Homo sapiens: one gene and its partner. The protein of the gene in region 2 purifies or fractionates together with the protein of the main gene of each other region. This does not show direct contact. Each region holds a gene or a part of one and is shown on either strand. Other genes may lie near its edges.

What was found. The genes of interacting proteins can lie anywhere in the genome.
Region 1: the proteins of ABHD17A (region 2) and P2RY8 purify together in Homo sapiens (co-immunoprecipitation; one large-scale study listed by IntAct). This does not show direct contact.

What each region holds. Positions count from the first base shown.
Region 1 is NC_000023.11:1,527,186-1,530,685, reverse strand, and holds part of P2RY8 (S-geranylgeranyl-glutathione receptor P2RY8), read left to right. Parts: intron 1-3,500. UniProt on the Homo sapiens protein: G protein-coupled receptor for S-geranylgeranyl-glutathione (GGG), an endogenous metabolite present in lymphoid tissues.
Region 2 is NC_000019.10:1,879,404-1,882,496, forward strand, and holds part of ABHD17A (alpha/beta hydrolase domain-containing protein 17A), read right to left. Parts: exon of another isoform or gene 2,402-3,093; 5' UTR 2,164-2,401; coding exon 1,832-2,163; intron 1,646-1,831; coding exon of another isoform or gene 1,493-1,645; intron 713-1,492; coding exon 518-712; intron 456-517; exon of another isoform or gene 1-455. UniProt on the Homo sapiens protein: Hydrolyzes fatty acids from S-acylated cysteine residues in proteins. Has depalmitoylating activity towards NRAS. Has depalmitoylating activity towards DLG4/PSD95. May have depalmitoylating activity towards MAP6.

The DNA.
Region 1 (3,500 bases), on a different chromosome or scaffold from region 2:
TTAAATAGATGATAGATTAGAGAGATACATAGATAGATGAGAGATAGATAGATAGGATAGATAGATACACACATACATATAGATAGATAATGGTGATGATAGAGAGATAGATCAATCAGATAGATAGATACATAGATAGAATAGATACATACATATGTACGTACATAAATTAGATACATATATACATACATACATAGATTAGATAGGTAGATACATACATACATACATGGATAAATAGATTAGATAGATAGATACATAGATACATACATAGGTGCATTAATAGATTAGAGAGATAGATGATAGATTAGAGAGATACCTAGATAGATGAGCAATAGATAAGATAGATAGATATGTACATACATATAGATAGATGACAGATAGATAGATAGATAGATAGATAGATAGATAGATAGATAATGGTGATGATAGGTAATAGAGATAGATAGATACATACATAGATACATGGATACATAGATAGATAGATAGATAGATAGATAGATAGATAGATAGATAGATAGATAGATAGATCATACATACATACATACATACATACATACATAGATGCATAGATACATAGATACATGGATACATAGATGGATGACGGAGAGAGAGAGAGAGAGGAGAGATTCTCTATACTAAAAGCAGGATCTTTCCACGTCAACACTATAGACATTTGGGGCCGGGTGATTCTCTGTGGTGGGGCCATCCTGTGCAGTGTAAGGTATTGAGAAGCATCCCCGGGATCCACCCACCAGATGCCAGGAGCACCCCCACAGTTGCGACAACCAGAACTGTCCTCAGACATTACCCAGTGTGCCGTGATGAGAAAAATCACCCCTAGTTGAAACCACTGTCAAATGGTAGGCAGATAAATGATAGAGATGAGAGATAAATGCTAGAAAGGTATAGATAGATGACAGACAGAGAAGATTAATAAATAAATAGATATAGGTGCCAGAGAGCTAGATATGATATATAGATAAATTGATAAATGATAGATATGATAGATAGATATAGATGGATAGATAGTCACTAACAGAGACTCTCTCATGCTCAGGCAGGGTGTCAGCCTCAGCACTGCTGCCATGTAGGGCTGGAGGATTCTCTGTGTTGAGCCTATCCTGTGCACTGCAGGGCACTGAGCATCTTCCCAGGCTCCACCCACCACGCCCCAGGAGTACACCCTCCAGTTGTGACACCCCAAACTGCCCAAGATATAGACAAGCATCCCCACTGGAACAGAATCTCCCGCAATTCTGAACCACAGGGTGAGAGGCAGGCAAGATAAGACAAGATGATCCTTCCAGAGACCTGGAAGGAGAAGCAAGATCATGTCCCATCCCCCAGGTCTCAGGGAGAGAATGGGCTGGGTCAAGGGACTCTGGATCACTTCCTTCCATTTCTCCATCTCCCAATGTGCTGTATGCATGCTCTTGTTACTATAATAAAGTAAGTAGAATTGAAGAGACTCTGTCGTTACAAGCCACACATGTGTAGATTAAGCAGATATTCCCTGTGCAGGTCAGGTCTCAGGGGAAATGGAGGATTTATTCTCCACCTTTCCAAGACCAAGGGCCCCGCTGTGTGTACGTGTTATTCTCATCAAACATGCTTATCTGCCCGAGGACTAAATGCTGGCTTCCACATGTGACATTTTTACTTGCAAAACTGGATCAATGGGGAGCGTCATTTATACTGTCCCATGCAACAAAGGGAACTGAAAAAGTGCAGGAATGAGGAGACTCAAATCCACGCACATTCAGAGACTCCAATCCACACTCAAAGAGACTCAAATCCAACTCATTCAAAGAGACTCAAGTCCACACTCATTCAAAGAGACTCAAATCCACACTCATTCAAAGAGACTCAAACCCACACGCAATCAAAGAGACTCAAATCCATACTCATTCAAACAGACTCAAGTCCACTCATTCAGAGACTCAAACCTACACGAATTCAAAGAGACTCAAATCCACACTCATTCAAAGAGACTCAAGTCCACAATCATTCAAAGAGGCTCAAACCCACACGCATTCAAAGAGACTCAAATCCACACTCATTCAAAGAAACTCAAATCCACACTCATTCAAAGAGACTCAAATCCACACTCAATCCAAAGACCAGAGCCAGCCTCTTGGAAGCACTTGCTCCTCCGGGCTTCCCTGGGACGTTTAAAGTGGTTTTGAAGATGTCGTATGAGGATGAATGCAAGACTTTGAGTTCACACGGTGCTGACTGGCAGCGCCTGCTGCTCAGAGCTGTGATGGCCTCCTCAAGGGGCAGTTGTGCAGCAGTAGCTCTGATGGAATCTCCAGGAACCCACTCTCCAGCAAGGAGCCCTGTCACATGCATACCTGCATGAGCCTCTCAGCCAGTGGTTGAAATGGGCATGTTGCAGACAGCCTCTCTGTGAGATGCAATAGATGAAACCTGAGGCTCAGTGAAGCTGGAGGCCTCCCAGGCACTAGCTGCTCAGTGAAGGCGCTGTTGTCCATCTACAGTGTCCATATGTCCATCACAAGCTCTTGGCATGAACACAGGAAACTTCTAGGATACTCAGGCTATTACCCTGGGGTTGGAGGCATTCTGTCTCCAGGTATTTATTTATCACTCATCTGTTCTTGGGGTGGAGGAGAATGAGACTACTCCTGCACTCAGGACAGGGACAGACCAGCAGGTGGCCACACGTGGAATAGAAACAGGAGATACCCCTTCAGTCTCAGCCACAGGGAATGAATGAGCAGGGTCCCTGTAGGGGCTGTGACTTTGTAGATGAGAGACCAGAATAGATTAACATGGCCTCAGTACTGTTTGTTGGATGGTTGAATGGATGGCTGCATAAATAGATGGGTGAATGAATAAATGAATGAATGAGTGAATGAGTGGATTAGTACATTAGTGAGTGGATGGATGGATATGTAGACAGGTGAATGAAGAGTGGATGAATGGATGAATGGATGGATGGATGGATGGATGGATAGATGAGTAAATGGATAAGGAATGAATGAGTGGATGAATGAATGAATGAAGGGATGATTGGATGGATGAATGAATGAGTAGATGAATGAATAAATGGATGGATGGATGAACAGATGGATAGATAGGTGGATGAATAAGGAATAAATGATTGAATGAATAGATACATGAATGGGTGAATGATAGTGGGTGTATTGATAAATGGGTGGATGACTGAATGGATGGATTGAAGGATGAACGGATGGATGGATGAGTGGATGGATAAGGAATAAATGAATGAATGAATAGATAAATGAATGAGTGAATGAATGGATCATGAATAAATGAATGGGCAAATGAATAGTGGATGTATGGATAAGTGGATGGATAAACGGATGGATGGATGGATGGATAGATGAGTGGATGGATAAGGAATGAATAAGTGGATGAATGAATGAATGAGTAGATGAATGAATAAATAGATGGACGGATGAACAGATGGATAGGTAGGTGGATGGATAAGAAATGAATGAATAGGCTGGGCG
Region 2 (3,093 bases):
GCTGGCCCAGACCTCGGATGTGTGCTGCGGGTCTGCACCTTACCCTGTAGGCCCTGCCCCAGGATGGCCAAGCTCCGCAGCCACAGGGCCTCATGGGCCAGTCCTCCGGACCTGGATGCAGCAGCCTCGCCTCACTTGGCCCCAAGTGCTGCCTCGGCCGATGGGCTCCCAGCCACACGTGCACAGACCCCCAGACCACCACCCACTCCCTCCCGCCGGGTGGCATCCACACCCCTGTGACAAGCTCAGCCCCTTCCCATCCTCAGGCCAGGGGTTCCCAGGGAACCTGGCTCCACAGGCCAGGGTGTGGGAGGACCGCCTGGCCACACCTCAGCCATGTGGAGGCGGCACCTGCACACCCAAGCTCGCCTGTCCGGCTCTCTGGCCCTGTGCATCCACTGTGGCTCCCCTCCTGCAGGGCCGCCCACCTTCCTCCCAGGGAAGCCCGCCCCCCGGCCCCCCGCCTGGTCCCCTCTTGGGTGTGCCCAGGCTGAGCTGCCCCCAGGGTCGCCCTCACCTGGTGCGCAGGGCCTGCCAGGCGGCGTCGATGTCGGCATAGAGGTTCCTCTCGGAAGGCCTGCCCGAGCTGGCACCGTAGCCGGAGTAGTCGTAGGAGAAGATGTTGCAGTGGAGGCGGGAGCCCAGGCCAATGTAGAAGCTGCTCATCTGGCCCAGGTCCACGGCATTGCCGTGCGAGAAGAGGACCGTGTACCTGGGACAGGCCGAGAAGGGCCGTTCACATCCTCGCTCCCAGCGCCCAGCTGCAGGGCAGGAGGATGCGTAGTGACAGCCCACCCCGGTGGCCAGCCATGCCCAGTGCCTCATTTACTCCCCTCCCAAGGGGGCCAGAAGCCAGTGAATGGAGAGGGGAGGCTACGACAGCACAGCTCCATCTCCGAGGGTTCCCCATGGGGAGAGGACAGGACAGCTGGCAGGGGGACAGGCAGCCTGGGCTGCAGAGGCCAGCCAGGGAGCCTCAGGATTCCCATCTGTGAAGCGGGACACTGGGACCATCGGTCGCATCCTCTCTCAGGGCAGACTCGCAGTGTGTGCTCAGATACTGCAGGCTTCACTGCCCTTCCTCCTGGAAGAACCTGGACCCCCGGGGATGGAGCGCACAGGCCCACCTTTCAGGACCTTCCCAGGGGAGCCCATGCTGCTGCTGGCAGGGCTATCTCCCCTCACCTCACAGAATGGTGCCCTCACTGTTGGGGCACAACTGGACCCCACCCCTGCCCCCAACAAGCAAATGCGGCCAATCTCTGCTCACACTCATGCAGCCCCTCCTGGCCCACCACCCTGCCCAAGCCCCAAGGCTGTGCTGCAAGGCCTGTCTGCTTCCCAGCACGGGAGCTGCCCCAGGTGGTGCCAGGAGCAGGTGGCCAGGCTGGCCCTGCCATGGACTGCTTCCTCCAGTTCCCCCAGGCCCCCACCTAGCCCAGCCAGAAGGTAAAGGCTCGCCCTCTGGACTCAGATCTGGTCAGAACCCCACCTGGCGAGAAGGTGGATGTACCCGCAGGCCAGGGCAGCCCCTGTGCCCCAGCTCTTGCCCAGCAGGCAACCACCAGGCGCTGGGTTGTTGGAGTCGCCCAGCCTGCCCACCCATGCCAGCTGGGGATGGCCTCCCTGAGCCTGGTGTCCTTGTCTGCGAGAGAAAATTGCCAGAGGGACGAGGCCGGCCTGACGGGGGATACCACCCTTGCTGGCTGGATGGCCCTTCACGGCAGGCTCGGGCCCTCGGGGGCACCACCAACCACACCAAGCACCGCAGGCAGAAACGGGAGCCCCAAGAACAGGGTGACCCAGCCCAGGCGCGGCCACAGCTGCTCACCTGGCACCAGGCACGCAGCGAACATACATGCAGGAGACGCGGTTGCCGCGGGCGCTCTTGGTGGGGAAGACCTCGATGGTGTCCAGCTCGCGCTGGCTGTACTGGAAGTCGGCACGCTCCGTCAGGTGCAGCTTCCAGCGCCCGGGTGCGCCCGAGGAGGCTCTCAGGGTCCCCAAGGGGGCGGCCCCGGCCCCACCAGGCCCCGGCTCGGGCTCAGGCACCAGGGAGTAGGTGGCCTCCGGCGGCAGGAAGGCGAGCTTGGCAGCGATGCGGCCGGGGCAGGGCGGGCAGCAGAAGAGGCAGCAGAGCTCACTCAGCGACAGCCCATTCATGGCGGGCGCCGCCCAGGCCGGGCCTCCACCGGGGCCCCCGCCAACAACGCCGCCCGGCCTGGCCCGGCAGGGGAGGGGTGGGGGTGCTCCGAGTCGCGGGCAGGGGGGAGAGCGCCCCCCCAGCTACCGCCCCAGACAGCAGCCCCGTTAGGAGGCCAGGGCCCAGCCCCATCGCGGTCCAAGCCGAGCCCCAGGGAGCCTCGCAACCACAGGTCTCCATGTCGTGCCGTGGGAAGCCCTGCGGGGGAACAGTGACATGTGGGGTCCTTTGGGGGTGCCACAGTCCAGCTGGGCACCCCCGGGAGGCGGGGCATCCACCCGTGCCAGGGGGCGGCATGGGCCCGGGGCCTGTCAGTCCCCATCCCCTCGGCCCTCCCCACGGCCTGTCAGGCACTGCACCCTACAGCTCAGGGGACCCCAATTCAGCCCCCTCTCCACAGGATGAAGGAACCCCCACCTTCCCTGAGCTGGCGATCACCACCTCTTGCCATGTGAGTACAGCCATGGCATGCGGGGCATGCAGGGGATATGACCCCAGCCCCGCCCACACCCCCGAAACGCCCGGCTCCAGCACCAGGGAAACCCCATGCGCCAGGACTCGGTCCGCACTGCTGCCCACTCCCTCCCCCGGCCCATCTCTGCCACCCTATGGGTGACGGGCCGCTGAGGCAAGGACAGAGCTCGAACTGAAGGGACCCACGAGGGACCCGAACAGGCCCCGCTACGTGAGCGTGCACAGGCGCCGGGTCCCACCGGCCTGCGATGTCTGGAGACAGAGGAAATACAACAAACAAAGGCTCTAGAAACAAAGGCAGGATACATCCCAGGCTCCTAGGGCCCCCAGAGCAGCAACAATGGCTCTTCTCTGTGCTGGAGCCAGGCCTGCTGAGGGGCAGGGGAGGTGGGCTGGCGTCAGGGGGTCCTTCTCCA